2 separate regions of the Homo sapiens genome follow, and region 1 is linked to region 2. The links come from fine-mapping of genetic effects on gene expression. A gene starts in region 2. The other region holds a variant in brackets. All regions are shown on one strand. Distances are from middle to middle. Region 1 has its middle 83 kb from the start of ETV1. Region 2 holds the start of ETV1 (ETS variant transcription factor 1).

The links. PIP is the estimated chance that this variant, and not a neighbour inherited with it, causes the effect.
Region 1: its variant is fine-mapped to the expression of ETV1 in subcutaneous fat (GTEx, PIP above 0.99). The same link has a PIP of 0.9 or more in visceral fat.

The regions. Positions count from the first base shown.
Region 1 is chr7:14,067,600-14,077,850 of GRCh38, forward strand. It overlaps the pseudogene RPL6P21. Among named protein-coding and RNA genes, the nearest start is that of ETV1, 83 kb to the left of the region's middle. The variant G/T (reference allele first, on the strand shown) is at 6,158.
Region 2 is chr7:13,985,796-13,996,046 of GRCh38, forward strand. ETV1 (ETS variant transcription factor 1) reads right to left here and starts at 3,871. Exons shown (of 14, transcript NM_004956.5): 1 at 3,768-3,871; 2 at 3,473-3,669; 3 at 3,213-3,344; 4 at 2,291-2,378; 5 at 843-890. The coding sequence starts at 3,257. RefSeq lists enhancers at 1-45, 5,391-5,892.

The DNA.
Region 1 (10,251 bases), 82 kb after region 2:
AAGGACCCACCACCCCACCCACCGCCCCCTAACAATAACATTTACAAAGCCACTATTACAATATCAAATTCAAGATATTGGCACTGATATAATCTACCTGTCTTACACAGATTTACCTGTTTTTGCTTATACTCATCTGTAGGTGTTTGTGTGTGTATTCAGTCTGTACAATTTTATCACATAGTGGTTTCATGTATCCACCACAGCTAAGAGAAAGAACACTTCCATCACCACTAGGTTTCTTCCTATTGCTCTTTTATAATCACGTCAACCTCCCTCCCCACAAAAGTTTTCCATCTCTGTCCCTTGCGGACCACTAATCTCTCTTCCATGTTTAACAAACTATGGCACATCCATACTATTGAATACTTCTTAGCAACAAAAAGGAAGGAACTATTGATACATACCAACTTGGATACATCTCCAGGGAATTATTGAATTTAAAAAAGAACTCCATCTTAAAAGATTACATATTATATTACTCCATTTATATAACATTTTATTTATTTATTTTTGTATTATTTTCTTTGGACCATGTATATAACTTTTTTTTTTTTTTTTTTTTTGAGATGGGGTCTCGCTCTGTTGCCCAGGCTGGAGTGCAGTGGCGCCATCTCGGCTCACTGCAAGCTCCGTCTCCTGGGTTCAAGCAATTCTCTCTCCTGCCTCAGCCTCCCAAGTAGCTGGGACCACAGGCGCCCACCACCATGCCCAGCTAATTTTTTGTATTTTTGTAGAGATGTGGTTTTACCGTGTTAGCCAGGATAGTCTCCATCTCTTGACCTCATGATCCTCCTGCCCCAGCCTCCCAAAGTGCTGGGATTACAGGCATGAGCCACCAAACCCGGCCTATATAACCTTTTAAGATGAAACATTTTAAAAATAGAAAAAAGATTAGTGACATTACATTGTGGTTTGAGTTTATATTTTCCTAATGTCTAATGATATGAACATATTTTCATATGCTTATTACTGAAGGATTTTTATATCTTCATGGGTGATGTATCTCTTTGTATTTTGCCCATTTTCTAATTGGATTATTTGTTTCTTTAACTGTTAAGTTTTGGGAGTAATTTATCTAGTCTAGATACTAGTCTTTTGACAGATATGTGTTTTGAAAATATTCTCTTTCAGGCTTTGGTTTGTTTTTTCATCCTCTTAATAGTATTTTGCAGAGCAAAAGTTTTTAATTTTAATGAGGTTGAATTTATACATTTTTTTCTTTATGGATTGGGCCTTTGGTGTCAAGTCTAATAATAATTCATTGCCTACTCCTGGACTGTAAAAATCTTTATATGTATGTATATATAAAATTATATATATATAAAAAATATATAAAATTATAGTTACGTTTATAGAGTAAGCCTTAATGTTGAGTAGACTGACTCCTCTTGCATTATTCTCTTTTCTTCTGTTTTTCTTTCTTTCCTTCTTTGTCAAAATTGCATAAGCTATTGTAGGTCCTTTGGAATTACATTAAGTCTATAAACCAATTTGAAGAAAATTCCAACCCAATTCATGCAAGGTATGCTTCTCCATTTACTTAGATATTCATTCATTTCTTTTGTCAATATCTTAAAATTTATAGCATGTAGGCCGGGCACGGTGGCTCATGCCTGTAATCCCAGCACTTTGGGGGGCCGAGGCAGGCAGATCACGAGGTCAGGAGATCGAGACCGTCCTAGCCAACATGGTGAAACTCCGTCTCTACACTAAATACAAAAATTAGCTGAGCGTTGTGATGCGTGCCTGTAATCCCAGCTACTCGGGAGGCTAGGGCAGGAGAACCGCTTGAACTAGGGAGTCGAAGGTTGTAGTGAGCCAAGATCGCGCCACTGCACTCCAACCTGGCAACAGAGCAAGACTCCGTCTAAAAAAAAAAATTATAGCATGTGGATTCTGTATATTTTTGGTTAAGTATAGACCTAAGTATTTCATTTTCTTTGGAGTGATCATAAATGATACTGTGTTTTTAATTTCCGTTTCAGAATGTTCATCATTAGTGTATAAATACATGATTCATTTTTGTGACTTGATCTTTTATTGTACCACATTGTTCAACTTTAGGAGCAGTTTCTTACTTTATAAGCTGTATCCCTTTTATTTCTTTATCTTGCACTATCGCAGTAATTAAAGTTTCCAGTAATATGTTCAATAAGAGTAATGAGAGTAGATATTCTTGTCTTCTTCCTGATCTTAAAGAGAAAGTGTATTATAGTCTTCAACCATTAAGTAAAATGTTGACTGTAGGGTTTTTACAGTTGCTCTTCAGCAAACTGTGGTACTTCTCTATCTCTCATTTGCTGAACGTTCCTTTTTTTATAAATCATGAATCAATTTTGGATTTTGTTATTTTTGTGGGCCACTTAAAATGCTCATATGTTTTTTTTTAGCTTATTGACATGATTGTGATATGGTTTGACTGTGTCTCCACCTAAGTATCATCTTAAATTGTAGTTTCCATTATCTCCAGGTGTTGTGGGAAGGAACCAGGGTGAGGTAATTGAATCATAGGGACAATTACCCCCATGCTGTTCTTGTGATAGTGAGTGAGTTCTCACGAGATCTGGTCGTTTTATAAGAGGCACTCCTCTCTTTCCCGCTGCGGTGTGAAGAAGGATGTGTTTGCTTCCCCTTCTGCCATGACTGACTGTAGGTTTCCTGAGGCCTCCCCAACCCTGCGGGACTGTGAGTCAGTTAAACCTTTTTCCTTTATAAATTACCCAGCCTCAGGTGTTTCTTCATTCAGTGGATTACACTGAATGATATTCAAATGTTTAATCAGTCTTAACATACTTGGAATTAATGTTATTTGGTAATGCAGGAAAGTTCTTTTTATGCATATTGTTAAATTGGGTTTACTAATATTTTTGTTGATGGTTTTTCATGTAAATTCTTTGTTGTTATCAATTATGTAATTTGGTTCTTAAGAAATTTAGAACACCAATTTGTGAGGATAAATTCCATTTGTCAGTGCAAACACAGATGCAGGTGGTCCTGGAGCTGAGGAATAGCTTTGATTTTGGGGAAAATTAGTGAGTCCACAGTTTTCTGATCAATCTTGTGCTGCCCTGTAATCTTGTATTTGTTTTTTCTGTGTTGAAGATCTCACCTTCCTGGTGTGTGGGCTTCCATAGCCGCTTCTTCTTGAAATGTCAGTAAGATGTTTTGGGATTTTTACATTACTGATATTAATTTTGGTTGAGATGGCAATGACAAATTTCTGGTGTGTTCTTTGTAGAGGAACTCAATTGAGGGCCAGAGATCCAGTCACAACTAACAAGCCACTAGCCACCTGCTTCAGGAAAACCACCCTCTTGCCTCTGTAGCACTCAGTGAGAATGATCAGAATGGCCCCGGGGGTGACTGTGGCTCGTAGTTTTCTCAAGTGCTGACTGAAGGGTTTTTGGCTGTGGCTCAACAGCTTTCGAGGCACATCTCCAGTAGAATAATATCTAGGGATTTTGCGAAGTTTAACTATCTGGGCACCACCCTGCTTGTCACCACACACCTTTCCTTCATTTTTTTTTTTTTTTTTCAACTTTGGATTTAGCGGCTAAGTACTTCCTCTTGTGCATGGCCCTTCTGCAATATGTAGCAGATTGGGAACATCTGCCAGTTCCTCAGACAAGGACAGGATTTCAGCTGCAATGAAGCTTCCCTTTCGTGGGCTTTTTAGCTTTGAGGTCATGTCACCCTTTTTCACCCTGTCACCATCAGCCCTCTTGGCTTTGAGTTTCTTCTCTTTAGTATCCAGTTTATCAGCTTTTTCATCTGCCATCTTGCAAGATGGGAAAGAGTCATGTAAATTCTTGAGAGATACTGGCCGGTAATTTTTTTTGTACTTCCTTTGGTTTTGGTAAAATAAATTAGAAAGTGTCCCTTCTTTTTCTAATTCTGAAATAAGTAGTGTAAAATTTGCAAAAGTGATGTTAATTCTTCTTTAAATGTTTGGTTGAATTCACCAACAAAACCAGCTAGAGCTAGAGATTTCCTTTTTGCGTCCTTTCAAAATATGAATCAAATTTCTTTAATAGCTATAGGAATATTTATAACATTTATTTCACCTTGGGTCAGTTTAGGTAGTTTGTGGCTTTTGAGGAATTTGTTACATTACGTTATCAAATTTATGTATGTAAAATTGTCTGTTATACTTTCTCATTATTTTATTATTATTATTATTTTTTTGAGACAGAGTCTCGCTCGTCGCCCAGGCTGGAGTGCAATGGCAGGTTCACTCCATTCTCCTGCCTCAGCCTCCAGAGTAGCTGCGACTACAGGCGCCTGCCACCACGCCCGGCTAATTTTTTTGTAATTTTAGTAGAGATGGGGTTTCACCATGTTAGCCAGGATGGTCTCTATCTCTTGACCTCATGATCCGCCCGTCTCAGCCTCCCAAAGTGCTGGGATTACAGGCGTGAGCCACCGTGCCCGGCCTCATTATTCTTTCAATGGCTATAGAATCTGTGATGATATCCCCTATTTAATTCCTGATATTGATGATTTGTGTTTGTTTTATTCTTGTCAGTTTTGCAGAGGTTTGTCAATTTTGTTAATTTTTTTGGAAGAAACAGCTTTTGTTTAATTGATTGTCCCTATTGTTCTCCAATTTTTAAATTTTATTGACTTCTGCCCTTTATGATTTTCTTCCTTCCATCTTTTTATGGGCTTTTTGGTGGTTTGTTGTTTGCTTTCCATGTATTTAGACATTTTCCTGTTGTATTTCTGTTATTGATTTCTAACTAGACTCATTATAGTCAGAGAACACACTGTATGATTTAAATTCTTTAAATTTTCTTAAGGTTTATTTTCTGGTCAGGGTATGACTTATCTTGGTAAATTTTCCATGGTTACATTTAAAAAAATGTACATTATGCTGTTGTTGGGTAGAGTGTTCTATGTAAGTTCATCTGTAGCCTTGCTTATTTTCTGTCTAGTTGTACCATTAGTTGCCAAAAGGAGAGATGTGAGGTTCCTGGCAAATTACCCCTTAATTCCTGAAGAAGAAAGTTAACAGTTTCTTTCTTTCAGCACTGGAAAAATATTGTGCCACGTGCTCTGGCCTTCATGGTTACAGATAAGAAATCATCTGAATTGGTATTCCCCTGTAGATAATGTGCTGTCTCTCTGGCTATTTTCAGAAGTTAATGATTTTGTGCTTTAGTGTAGATTTGCTTGGGTTTATTCTGTTTGGGGTTCACAGGACTCCTTAGATCGAAGGTTTGTGTCTTTTGTCAAGTTTGGAGAGTTTTCAGTAATGATTTCTTTAAATACTATTTCAGTCCCATTCTTTTTCTCTCTTCTTATGGGACTCTAATGATATGACTGCTATATATCACAGGCTCCTGAGGCTCTGTTCACATATATTTTGTCTATTTTTCTGCCTTTTATTCAGATTTGGTAAATTCTATTGATTGTCCTCAAGTTCACTTATTTTATCCTCTGTCATCTCCAGTCTTACATTGAACCAAGCCAGCAGTTCTATATTTTCTGTTTGTTTCCACTGGTTCTTTTTATAAGTTCTATTTCTTTTCTGAGTTTTCTGTTTTTATTTATTTCAAGAAAAATCTATAATTGATGTTGAAGTGTTTTTTGATGACTGTGTTAAAGTTTTATGTCAGATAATTCCAACAGCTGCTTTATCTCAGTGTTGGCATTAGTTGATAGTCTTTTTTCATTCAAATTTTTATTTTCCTAATTCTTAGTATGATGGGTGATGTTTTTATTGTATTCTGGAACTGTTATCTATTGTGTTAGGAGATTCTGGCTCCTATTTGAATCTTTTATTTTAGCAGTCAGTCACGCTGTTAAGCTTTAGCGTGCACATCTTAGCCTACTTTTGTGGGCTGCTGTTCTAATAACAGTTTAATTTTATACTTTTTTTGGGTCTTTATGGTTTTTATTTTGGCCTTTGGTTTATCTGGGACTACCGAGGCTCCCACTGCTCCCTGTTCATACTGCTTGAAGGGATGGAAGTGAGAGGGGTTTAGCCAGACTGGGCTGCCTGGTGTTGCTCAATGTGAGAAGAAAGTCTCAGGTCTAGAGGGACAAAGAGGCCTTCCTTTCCTGGCATGTGATGTAGTGGGATACTTCCTGATTGTAACCCTTCACCTCCATGGAAACAAGCTCCCTCATGGGAGGCAGGCAATAACTTTTT[G/T]TTCCTTCCACTTCCTCATATGAAACTTCAAGATAATAAAAGAGGCAACTATTCAGAGTCTAATTACATCGAAGGGAAGTCCTGGGATGGCTGATTAAAATTGGTATGCAAAAGGAGGAAACTGATAGTGTGATCACCTGAAGCTTGGTGGAATTTCATAGGAAATTGTGGGACTCATAACCATCTCTCCTCAAATACCCCCTGATGTTAAAAATATCGAGAAAGATATGCTCATCTTATTTGCACCTAGATAAAATACAAGCAAGGAAAAGTTCTAATGAGCTTCCAGTATTAGATGCCAAAATACTCTCTTTTAACATTTATTTTGTAATATAAGAATAAAATTGACATGAAGGTCAGTGCCTTTAGATCCAATCTCCAGTAATACATTGTGTGGTTGAAATGGCCTGGGGTGGAATGGAAACTATTTGAGGTCTATTAGATAAAGAAGCACAGTGTATAGTGCTGCCTAGTCCTGCTCATGAGTCTTTTAGGGCTAACAAAATCAATTTACAGGGATGTGAGGATGCTATTGTAGTAGGGTAAAAACAGTCTGGATAGCATTTGTAATGTATGATTAAAAACCCTTGAATTCTCTCCTATAATGTTGTGATATGATAACATGGGTTGTAGATCTAGTAGAACTGGCAGTTTTCTATTGATGATATTATAATTATTTTAGAACCTAAGAATCAAGCCAAAATCAAATTTACTATAGTCATAAATTGCATGATAATCAGGAATGGTTGATTAACCTCACAAAAATTCAGAGCCCCACATAGACAGTGAATCTTTTGAGCATTGCATGGACTTGAGCAACCTATGACTTATTGCAGACCACTAAAAATGAATGATTTTTACTGCCTGTTTCTTAACCTGAACAATGTCTATTGGCCTTTCTTGACTTTTACAGAAATCACATCCGTCATTTGGAATACTGTTAGATCTGATCCTTAAAATCTTTTAAAGAAGGCCATGTTTAATTGAGGGCTGTAATGCTAGTTATTCTTTTGGATAACATGGTCCTAATGTTGAAATGATACTAGAAGTGTTGGCCACTCATATTTAGCCAACTGGAGTCTTTCATAAAACCCCATAACCACTGCTACTGAACAGTTATCTCTTGTCTTTTGAATTATAAAATGACCAGATGCTCCTCTCTGGTATACTCCTTTTAAAAGATAGTTACTGGCTTATTATTGGGCACCTACACAGACAGCCCGAATAAGTAAATTGTTTAAGGCCATATTAAAGCCCCAGTAAAGCATTGCAAAAAAAGAGGGAGATGCCGAAAGAAGTTTCCACATAAGATGGAATAAAAAGGGCATATGTAAGAGCATCCTACCAGATAATTTACAGGAAAGACTTCTTACATTAGTAAGCAAGTAGCCTTTTTCTTCCTATGACCTACTGTAAGGCTGCTTAAGGATTTGCATGGTACTATTGTTGAACGGGCATATTTTTGAGCAATTGTCTTAGAATGTAAGGCAATTGCCCTGGTTCACAAAAGACAGTTCCAAAAGCAAATGCCAAGACCTGGCATGAAAATCAGGGCTGGGTGCAATGGCTCACACCTGTAAACCCAGCACTTTGGTAGGCTGAGGTAAGAGGATTGCTTGAGGCCAGGAGTTTGATACTAGCCTTGTCAACATAGCAAGACCCTGTCTCTACAGCAAAATAAATCAGCTGTTCTGCATTCAGCAAACAGTAAAATACTCATGGAAAAGTACAGAGCCTGTATTACAGGCTGTGTTCTTCGCAATGATAGAAGAACTTAAAAAAAAAAAAAGGCTCTACTCTTTGGCTTTTTATAATGACTATATTGACTTTTTGGCTTTCAATTTGTTCTGGAAAATGGATCAGATGGACCACAGAGGGGCCTCCACCTGGTGTACTGCTCTTTGTAAATCTCTGTGGAAATTCTGAGAAAAAAAATCAAAGGCACACTGATGCTCAACACAGCAACCCTGTGTCAGGATCTGAGATGACTGAACTCAAGAAGTTGATGTTCTACTTGGATTTCTTGAAGTGGTAACCTCGGTCCAAGACATGGGTGAACACAGACAAATTCAAACCATGCAATGATGTGCCAAATTACAACACACCCTGGTGGCCTCTACCAATATAATTTTTTCTGTATGCCAATGGAAAAGGCAAAATCTGCAGTTCACCCTTGCCAGCGTATAGTTGGCAAGTAGATTACATTGGCTTTTAACCTATTGCTCCAGGGGAGGGTACTTAAAAGGATATTGACAGAACTTGATACACATTCTGGGTTTGGATTCCCATACTCACTAACTGAAGCCAAAGCTGCTTATGTTATCAAAGAACCGTGACCAAAAAAAAAAAAAAAAGAAATACTCTATCATTTTGGTCCTCTTAATTACATTTCATCAGATTAAGTTATTAACTTCTAGAGAAATGATGGGTAAAGAAACAGAAATATCACATTCAATAGACTTTTAAAATATATTCCCGAAGTGGTGGGTTAATAAAAACTGACATGTGCAATTAAAACACCTATTTAAAAAGATGCAGGTAACAAAGGATTGAAGGGCTGCCCTACAACTTCCAGCTTTATCTTTATTAATTTTATTTTACCAAGAGGATTATTATGGGTCTCTGTTAGATAAATTATTGTGCATTTGAAATAAAATTGGAAAAGACGGGAGAAGAGATGATGCAGGAGCTTACTACATTCAAATCTTCCCTTGTATGTAAACAATTTCTTTTCAGTGCTATACCCAATTATTCCTAGGTTAGAGTTACTGTCCCAGAGGCTGGTAATATCCCAAAAAAGAAATTATGTCTATTAATCTGAATATAACTGAAAGAATCCCAAAGCGATTGATGGGATAAATTATTTCTTCTCCAGACTGCCAAGTTTGGCCTGACAACCTTGTGGCAAATATTTTGTGTAATGATTCTATTTCTTTGTACTTTTCCCATCTAACTCACTATGACTGGGAATAGAATAAAAGAGGAAGCCTTAGTATGTGTCATCTTGTTATCAGCAATATGGACCAGACCATTGGCTGGACCAGAGAGACCCATCTCAGTGGAAAAGCTTTAGATAAAAATTAATGATAGAAGGAAGAAAAGTGAGATTGTAAATGAGGGAAAGATAGTTAATTAATGGAGGTTAAAAAAAGGAAACACTAATATAATTCTGTCTCTCCTTGTGAGAGGCTTGGAGCAAAAGAATACTAGCTCATTTAGCTTCAACTCAGATGTCCTGGAGCAAGCACTCTGCTGGAATCTCTTCCTCTTCTAAAGGAAGAGAAGGACTAAACTGAGCTGGCTAACAGGCACACTAACAAACACACATGAAGGAGTGGGCTATGTCCTCAAAATGGATAAACTGATAAAAGCTCTGACTATGACTACATGAAACAATATTAATATGGCCATGTATTTTGATTCTTTGTTTCTCAAGATATGTCTATTAACAAAGACCCATGGAAGGAAACAACTTACTGAGAATATTTATCAAATGAAATCTGAAGAACACAGATTCATAGTAATCTGAATGAACATTGTGTGGCCATTAATTGTGATGATGAAGATTAAAAAAAAAGGAGCTGGCATATGATCATAGAAGATTTCCTGCTGTATGTCCCATCTGTTATAATATCTTATATACAAATAATTGTTTACTTTATTTTTACTCTCTTTATTACAGCTTTTTCATCACAGTTAAAACATTTAAAAAATAGCCTAATGTTGATGTGATGTAAAATGCATTAGCAGAGTAAATAAAAAACTCCTCAGATAATTATGCCTATGGAGGAGAATTGACCTGAAGAGGACTCAGACTTGATTTAGCAGGTGTATACCATAAAATACAGATAGCTGAAAATTAGAGAGGCAAAGGACTTGTAAAGTTAGTATAAAAGTAACAAGAAAGTTTGTGCTGATATTGATGGCTAGTCTAGCTATCTATTTCAACACATACCAACCTTTAGCAGGCTATTACAAAAGTACAAACGTAATCTGCAGGTGGATTTTTGCTATCTTTTTTCTTTTTTTCTTTTTTTTGAGATAAAGTCTCACTCTGTTGTCCAGGCTGGAGTGAAGTGGAACACTCTCTGCTC
Region 2 (10,251 bases):
CAACAGAAGTCCCTCAACATTAGGCATTTTTGAAGTTGTATAAAGCTTTATGAAGCAATCTCATTTTCCTATAAAGTTGCATACGATAAAAGATATAACAGATTGCACCACAAAATTTTAACAAAAAATAATTCAAAATGAAAGTAATGCCTTTAAATGTATCCTTGCTCTATTAAATAAATCCTAATAAAACTGACAAAATAGCAAAGGTCAATTTCAGCAAACATAACATGAATAGTAACACATGGAAAACATTTTTAAAATCCTCATATCTCCCATTTATTTTAAACCCATAGATTTCCTAAGCATTAGATACACACCTAACGTTCTGTGTTGTGAACAAGGTGGAAAGAAGACACTTGCACTTAAATCTTGAAGCATCCCGTCCTGATGAACCCAGAGAAACTAATTTCTGCCATCAGAAAAGTCCTCCACCAGAACACCAAATAATGATATGCGCTGCTCTAAAGGAAACAGCAAGCCAGCCGGGTTCTGGCTCTAGGAGGTCTCTGGAGGTACAATAATATAAACCTGATCAATTGCAATTAAAATCTGAACAGAGGCTTAGAACTTGAAGTCTTGGTGCATTAGTTCTTGCCAAAAGCAGATGTGATTGTGAGCTGGAAGCAATTTCTCCTGGTAATTTGTGATGACACTGGGTAGTACAGCCCCAGAGTCCCCAAAGACAAACTCATCAGAGGCTCTAATGTATGCATGACACATGAGGTGGCTCTTTTAGAGCTCAATTAATTGGGCTGAATATTAAGACAGCAAGTTCAGGACTTCTTTTCTTTCTCCTTCTAGAGTTGCTTTCCCCCCTTTTAAAGCAAATTTTGCCTTACCTTCTGCAAGCCATGTTTCCTGTAATTGACTTAGATCTTGAAAGAGTTCTAAAAAACAAGTCAAAGACATAAACATAAGATTTGCAAATCTTTAATCTTCATTAAATGGAAATATTTGTCATGAAATTGGTATTAAATATAAATTTAATTTCAAGAGACGCAGTCAACATAAAAATAAAAAAAAGAGGCATAACTTAAATATCTCAATAATACTGCCTACTTTTCATGCCTATTAAGCAACTCTTTAAGAAATTATTTTAGTCAACTAAAGAATAAAGTCAATCATCTTTTCTTCTTTTTAACAAACAGCTTAATAAATAAGCTCAGGGATACCAGAATTCACAAAAAGGCTGAGGTGAATATGTGTCTGTTCACTGAAATCTTCCTTAAATATATTTAACTCTTGCTAAAATAGTAGTAGGGGGAAGATTAGAAAGACTGAAAAGCATTTTATTTATATCTTCTGAATCTTACATAAAATATATAATGGTACATGGTACAACTGTCAAAGTATTATGTTTTCAACTTCAATACCTCGAAACTAAAAGAAACCACTTCAAATACAAGTTTTTAGAGGAAAATTTCTACATTAATAGGTTTATAAAAGTCAGAAAGATAATTCTTTGGCACCAGGTTCTCATCAAGTTCTAAACTATATGGTCATGTTAGGGAGGGAGAGAGGGAGGTATTTAAATGGTATGAAGATTTGAGGAAGTTTCAGAATTCAGTATATCTAATTAAAATTGCCAACTAAACTTTGATAATTAAATCTAAGTATATTAAGTTTATTATGAATGTCCTCATATGGCTAAAATAATTTGTAACATACTGACATCCTAGCAACAGTTCATAAAAAGAATCTGCAAACTAATTTCCCAAATAGTATTATAATTATTAAGGAGGCCTTAAGTATGATTCAGTGAACACATTATGGTCGATAAACAAGGTATTATGACCTCACAATTTAGTCATCAAAATCACCCTTGAAAATTCTGTTAATAGTAGATGGTTTTAGTGTAAAGGAGGTGGGAAACCAAACAATCACTAATACTGTTTAACTTGTAATAAAGGAGAAAGAAAAAAGTAAGCAGTGTACATAGCTGCTGAATTTGTCCCACTGTATTGGATATTTTTAAATTGTTATCTTAGTGAATGGGGTGAGTTATATGCCCCATGGACAAAGGTATTTAAACACAAAACAATGATTAAAAGAAGGTTGTCATTGAGAAGTTTTTATTTCCTTCTTTCATTACTTTGTGATAGGACCATAAAATAGTCTCCCATGCAAACTGCCGCATTATGTAAATCGTTCCAAGTTAAAGTCTTAGTTAGATTCAGTAATTTCAAAGTTTATTATTTTTAAGATAAGACTGAAGTGCTCCTTTTCTTTTAGCAGGGTGGAGAGTGTAGGTAAAAAAATGGGGATTCAGCCCAAAATCAAACCTCACCTTCTGAATCATGAGCCAGATCTCTGTTAATGAATTTTCTTTTCCTGACATTTGTTGGTTTCTCGTTACAATTTCTCCCACGCTGACTCTACAAAGGGAAAGATAAAATCCTTTAAAAGAATGTAAACCTCAGATCACACACACGCACACGCGCGCGCACACACACACACACAGACATGCATACATAAGTCTAATGGATCTTCTCTGAATAGAAAAATAGAAGTCCATAGTATCAACTCTAATATTCATTTTCTCACTTATTTGACAGTGAAAGCTTATGTTAAGCAGGCAGGGAGAGTTGCTTCCCAGTGCCGATCTTAGCACATTACTATTTATCAATCATATATTCATGGTATCTCAGCATCAAAACAACCTGAAGCATTTACACTTAAAGTTGTTTTTAGGCTGGTTCAATGCTAGATTAAAACAGTGGGTTTTATTCTCTCTTGGACAGCCCCTCCTCCCCACCCCACCCCCACAAAAAAAAAAAGCAAAAAGAGTAGAGAAATGAAAAAAAAAAAAAAGAGAAAATGAGAAAAAAAAAAGAAACAAAAACACCCCATATAAACAAAAAGTGTCAGCATTTGTCTCAACTTCATTCTTTTCAATGTGGCAGACAAACCCAGCCAAAAACTTTGAGTGCAGCAGCTGCTGCTGCCCTCCATCTCCTCTTCCACTCATGTTGGGCACTTTAATCAGAAAAAGGGGTCTTAAAAACAAAACTATGCCTTATCCAAATCACTGAAAGGTAAGCTCATTTTGAAGACTGGGCTTCTAGAAGCAGAGTCGCCCTACAGTGGCAACAAAGCAGATAAGTATCTGCAATCCCAACCCCCGTGCCCCCTCCCTTCTCATTTTCTCCCTCTCCCCACCCCCGACGGAGTCAAGTTTATAAACAGCAACTTTCAAACTGATCACTCACATTGGTGACCATGTAAGGCACTTGCTGGTCATAAAATCCATCCATGCTGCTGCTCTTCGCAAATCTCAGCTCAGTATTTTATATTTTGAGCATTTAGCTGGAGATTTCCTCAGGATCTGGACTTCTATCAACCTAGAGGGGAACAAGATGGCTTTTAGGCTTAAAAAAAAATCATGAATGAAGCTCTTGAATTTGCATAGCTAATTACCCTCCGACAGTCCCATTCACAAAAATAACCCTCCCTACACCGCCTCCTTCACCTGGATCCAAAGAGAGCCAACAGAGTTCACAATTTACATATTTTCGGTAGTAGCAAAAATCCGAACAAGAGGCGATGTATTTATTTACACTCTCGATGTTTCCCTGCGCGGTCGGTGTACCCCGGGCAGCTCTGATTCGCAAACGTGTGCAAAACTAGCAATGGCGATCAACGAGACTTGCTTTGCACCTAACGGGACTAAAGAGACGGAGACACCTCTTTCATCAGGATAGTTTTTGCGACCCACAACCATGCAATTATCTGGAGAGACATAAAAAGTTGTTGGAAAGACCCACCTGAAGGCCACGCTAGGCGAAAGGCTGCAAAAACTTCCCTCCAAATTTAATAAAAACATTAATTATAGCCCAGCACTTCCCCCTTGGAAGCCGAAAGCGCCTCTGACAGAGCTCAATTCGGTGGTTTTTCCTCTACTTCTCCTCCAGGGGCCTCCAATCCAAACTGATGGATCGCTGCCTCCCATTGGCTCCGCGTCTCTTTCACAAGATCAGATTTCGGGCTGTCAATCAGGCGGCTTGCTGCCCCTTCCCGCGGGTCTCCCTCGCCCCTCTGCCCTAGGGGGTGCTCGGCCGGTAGGCGCTGGGTCCTCAGCCTGGAAGCGCCACGGAGAGACTCGATTTCCTCTGTAACCCGCTGCTTATTGTTAAGGCGCCTGGGGATACTGAAACCGTGTGTTTCGAGTCGCCAGTTCCCATTATTGGGGTGTTAGGTCCACTATTGGGCTGGTTTCCTTAAAGTACTGTTGTGCGGTTCTGGTATACCCTTAGAGCCGCGATCCACAAAGCCCGTACCGCCTTATTCAGCTGCCCTCCCCTCAGGATCTCCAACCTCTCTACTCTTGCCCTGACTAGGAGCTCACCTCGCTCTCTATCCTCATTCCCACTCAGCTTTTGGCCCAATTTATTTTCCCGTTTTTCAAAACCCACCATCACCATTATGGTTTATCGAAACATTTTTTAAACAGTCATCCTCAACTAAAATTAGATCCTATCGTTCGTGGGACAGAAACATAAAGAATCTATAAGGAAGGCACCTAGGAGATGCAGAATTGCTGATTAGCAGAGGTTGTGATGGGAGGACAACAGAGCAAGCTAGGTGAAAAAGTATAAGTCAAAATGGTCCCTACGTGTGCACTGGGAAAAGGTACTTCCAGTCCACTGTGGCTGTGGGGAGGAGGAGGGAGTGCTTGGGGTTGCTCGTATATCCTAGAACCCGCACGTTTCCTGAGCTTTTGTTATGTATACACGGAGGCGGAGGGTGTCACTTACTGTACTTGACGCTTTCACTTCCTCTCCAGCTTTTAAACAGCCAGAGCCCAGGGTTGGGGGCGAGCGGTGAGATGGCTCGGGTTTCAAGGACAATAACTAGGACGTTAAGCAGTGAGGGCTGCATCTCTGAAGCCACTTGCCCTGATCCTCCTATGGGACTCAGAACAGTAAAGCGTCACTTTAAGGAGCCAGTGTCCAACAGCGGACGGGAGGCCGCGGGGATAGGACCAGGGACTCAATGCTGTTGAAATTCATTTGTGACCAGAACTAGTGACCAAAAGACGTTTCCGGCAGCTGTTCCGCCCGTTAGGAAACGTGCTGCAGTTCTCAATTTCTATTTGAAAGTTTCCTTCCTTAAATAGAACGTTATGGAGACACATTAAAATGGAGTGTAAGAGCGCACAGCACTCAACCCCGGACCTGGGCAGGAGAAAGATCTACTTAAAAAAGAAGCAAACAAACAAACAATCAACACTTATTACTGGGAAAACAACCAATAACTATGGACAGCAAAGACAGACCCCGCGCATTCCCGGAAACTACTAAATCGGAGTTCACAACGCGCGCACCTATAAGCATTTTGAGCGGGAACTGCATTTTAACCCCGGCCAAGGAGAGATTCCAGGAAGCGCCTGGGCCCCGAGGCTGAACAGTGAAGCTCATGGGTACTATCTGAGGGTGCAACCAAGCAGGGGGTCAATAACAAGGGTCCTCCACCACCCTGCACTCCTGGAATAACCCAGCGCCTGTAATCTGAGCAACAGTTTCCAAAGACCTTCTCTGCAGCCCGAGCCTGACGGGTATCCAGGGTAACCGCGAGGGGGCGGAGCTTCGGGTTAGGTCCCGGCGAGGTTCTTCCCGCAGCCAATAACGAGCCGTAAATCCCCAGCCCATTGTTGTTTATTGCTGACCCCTCAGCGCTCCGCTAGGAGATTGGCCGCTTTAGGGAAGGGGGCGGAGTCCCGCCCGCCCCAACAGCCACCTTTCGTCTCCATTCACAAAATTCCGGCCCTTCTTGGTCACGTGGTTGGGGGCGTGGAGGGGTAGAGGAAATGACACAACAAAGGCCCAAGTATCCCAAACCACAAAACTTTTTTCAGCTCGCTGCCTCCTCTTTGTCCTGTCCCTGAAACAGATACTAGATGAGGAAAAAGAGGTTGGGGTCTGGGAGTAATAACAAGAGAGAAAAAAATTAAGACCGAAATTAAAGGAAGGCTCACGTGGGGATAATTCCGGCGTGCACTGCTTAGACAGCTTTTGCACTAGAGGAAAGAAAGAATTGAGAGTGGGGAGAAAGTCTTAAGGACTGGGAACTTTTGCTTGCTGCTTCAAGTCATTGCTTTTAAAGGTGCAAACTGTTCGACTGTAGATGGATTTCAGTTTTTTCACTTAACATTCTGTAATTTTCATTTCTACCTTTTTTTGTATCCCACAGTGTCTTGTTAGTTTTTTAAAGCTTTTATGTATTATTAGTATTATATATTTTTAGGAATATTGATGGTTTTCGCTGGCTGATAGCTTTAGTTTCCATTTCCAAAGACTTATCACTCCTTCCCAGGCCCCCATAAGCTCTGCGCCCCTTCTCCCTCCCTTTAGTGGACTGGCACTCTCAGGCGCTGCGCTGTTAAGCCTCAGATTTTACTACGTATTGCGGTGGCTTCATATTTTCCCTTTTGAGTTCTTTAAACGAACTCATATCTTTTAACTCTTTGATCTTCATAGTAACTGAAAATGATGTTCTCGTGTGAATAAGCAGCTAGTCTCGCTACAGCTCGGTTTTGTTGAAACAGCCTAAAATTTTGAGATAAATGTGTCCCTCTTGACTGTGAACGATTGAACCACCCTCTTTTCTTTCTCCCACTTTCTCTTCTGTCCTTTCTCTGCATTGATACTTACTGAAACACTATCTCTTCTGTCCTTTCTATGCCTTGATACTCAGACACTAGCTTCTAGTTTGGCAGTTGTTTATCTTCTCTGCTTGGCACTGGGAAAAACCAATAGACCCACTTGCTGAAGACAGTGGAAGGGCTGAAAATTTGTTTTTCAGAAAATGTAAGATCTTGGAAAATATCTGCAAAGGCAGCTGTTCTGTCTACAAGACAGGAACATAAAAAGCTGGACAAAGTTTCCACTACTTTTTGAGAATGTCTTTAAAACATCAGTTTAGTAAATGCCAGCCCTTTTGAACGGAAAATTTCATTTTGGCAGGATTTCAGGCATAGAATGGCAGAGCAGAGGCCAAGAGGCTTTGACATTTATTTGCTTGTATTTTGAAATCCCATTTGGATTTTGAAATAAGAGTTCTTGAGAGAAAGCTACCCCCCTCCAAAAAAAAGTCCATTTTTGAGTTTGGAAAGTTTTTAGGTTGCATGTAAAACTATTTAAATTTTTATATTTCCCTTGCTGTTATTTAATAAAGTAAAATAATATTCATTAGTGACTTCTCTACAGTTAACTTACTATGGCATTATGAAGAAATTGCACGTTGTTAAAGAAAGTGAATTTCTAAAAGCAGTTACAGAAAGGCAACAAGCTAAAATGGCGCTGCTTGTTTTAAATGGTTGCTATAATTAAAATCAAATGAAGTTTGCTCAAAATTGAGTAGAGTATTAAGTAAAACAGTAACTTTTAAAATTTGTTGTATTAAAACAGTATGTAAGGCAAATTGTTAAAGATCTAGTTTGCACAGTTACATCAAATAGATAAGAAAAAGATATAAAATTAAACAGCAAAATTGGCCAAGAAAATGAACAAGTGAAAATAATTCCAAAGGAGAACATAGAGTCCTCACAGGAGGGTGAAAGATAATCAGTGGCTTCAGGAACACTGTATGTGAGGAGTAGCAGAAATTTGAGAGGAGGGTGGAGCCTGGGAAGAAGGTAAGGGTATCAAGGAAACTGATACTATGTAGCTGTATACTCTCTCACTCTCAATACTGCCATTTTCAGCTGGTGACTATCTGTAAACTCCCTCAAGTAGAGGAATTGCAAACAACTTATAAATGTGGAAAAAAAAACTTTTAACTGCACCCCAAATCAGTACATTATACTGTACACTTAAAAAATAAAGAATTTTTTTATTTTTATTATTTATTTATTTATTTATTTATTTATTTATTTATTTATTTTGAGACAGAGTCTTGCTCTGTCACCCAGGCTGAAGTGCAGTGGCGCGATCTCGGCTCACTGCAACCTCTACCTCCTGGGTTCAAGTGATTCTCCTGCCTCAGCCTCCCAAGTAGCTGGGAGTACAGGTGCCCGCCACCATGCCCAGCTGATTTTTGTATTTTTAGTAGAGATGGGGTTTCACCATATTGGTCAGGCTGGTCTCAAATCCTGACCTTGTGATCCGCCCACCTTGGCCTCCCAAAGTGCTAGGATTACAGGCATGAGCCACCGCGCCCTGCCTTAAAGAATGTTTTAACTCATCAATTTGGAAGGAAGTTTCTAATATACTTAGAGTTGGATCCTAGGATAAGGGCACTCATGTATATTGCTGGTTGGAATGTGACTTTTTGAAACCTTTTGAAGGTAAGCTTACAATGTCTACTAGACTTTAAAATGAACATCTATTAGACCCTAAAATTATATCCAATAATCCTCATTTGGGAAATCTATACTACAAAAATAAAAGCAATGGTGCATGAAGACATTTATTGAAATATTAGGTACCAAGGAAAAAATCTGGCAGCAACTTCAGTATCCACCAATAAGGAAATGGATTTGACAAAGTATGATACTCTTATAGTTTGGAATTCAATTATCATTATATACCTGTTAAAAAGTATGCTATATGGTTGGTTCTCAAATTTGAGATTATATAAGACACTCCTTGTTAAAAAGTGACATCCCTGGGTGGATTCATAGAGTTTCTGATTCCGTAGGCTTGAGCAAATCACGTGGGAATTCTGTTGCAGGAGGTTGTGTTGCAGTTAGTATGTCAACATTTCTTTGAAAAATCGTGAGTTGAACTTCTACCTCACAAGTCCAAAAGGAAGCCAGCATTGTGTGCTAGTCCAGACCTGTTTTGCTTGACCCACATAATGTTGACCCTCAAGGGAAAGTTATTGTCAACATTCAAAATTCATATTATACACAAAAATTTAGACTTCCATTGCTTGAAAAATTAGAGAATATGGTAACACTGGGCCTAAATTCCCACATAGCAACCATGAGCTGGAGCTGATGTAAAGGAGCTGATGTTCCTCATGAAGAAGCATGGGCTCACAGTTTTGCCATGGTCTACATTCTTCCCCAAACCCTGTTTGTCTTGTTGATGTTACCTACCTTACCTCTGAAATGATTTGCATGCAACTATGATTTACATGTGACATAGCGTATTGAATGATAATAAAAGCAAGAGACAGAATATACAGTACCATATATTCTGTTTTCGTTAAAAAGAAAAAATAGTGTACATAAAGGTGTGTATATACACTTACACATATATATGTATTCACAACCTTTTTTTTGTTATTGTCCCCAAGGAGCTTTTTTAGACATGTTTATTCCTTATCACCTCCTTCTCATTATATTTTAATACCACAGTTTTACTGTGTATCTGTTTGTGTCCTGTAGTCCTTTAGAGTGTCACAAACCATTATGACACCTAAGATACATCCCTCCAATAACCAGTTTTCAACACTTGGGAGTAATATCACCCCCACTAACAATGTAAGGTATATATATCTATAGTTTTATTTTTTAAGATGCTATATTACCTATAAATATTAAAATTTTTATGATCAAATGAGTGGCAGGGAAGGATACACACTTATCTTTTACACTAAGTTACATTTTTCTAATAGTTTGGATTGCAAGTGGGAATCAAAAGATAATATTTTTTTCTAATACTTGAAATGGTTTGTTACAACATGCAAGTTTCATAGACGTATTTTTTCTTAACCCACTACATGAAGGAAGAAATCAGTAGTTTATTAGAGTTAATTAATTAGAGATAAATTATTAGCATTCAAATTAGAGTTTGCAAGGACAACAGAAATTTTTATTTATAGAACAGCAATATATCTAGGTGGTTATAGATCTTAATTTTTGAGTAATATATAAAGTTTGCAAAAACTAATAAGCAAGAAACAAAACACGAATCTCTACCTGCCTTTAAAAATACGATCGTTTGGCCGGGCACAGTGGCTCACGTCTATAATCCCAGCACTTTGGGAGGCTGAGGCAGGCGGATCACAAGGTCAAGAGATCTAGACCATCCTGGCCAACATGGTGAAACCCTGTCTCTATTAAAAATACAAAAATTAGCTGGGCATGGTGGCGTGCACCTGTAGTCCCAGCTACTTGGGAGGCTGAGGCAGGAGAATCGCTTGAACCCGGGAGGCGGAGGTTGCAGTGAGCTGAGATCGTGCCACTGCACTTCAGCCTGGTGACAGAGTGAGACTCTGCCTCAAAAAAAAAAAAAAATCATTTGCATTTCTTTTAGAATGAAAAGTATGACTTTGGTGACTTTAAAGTAAACAGTGAAACAT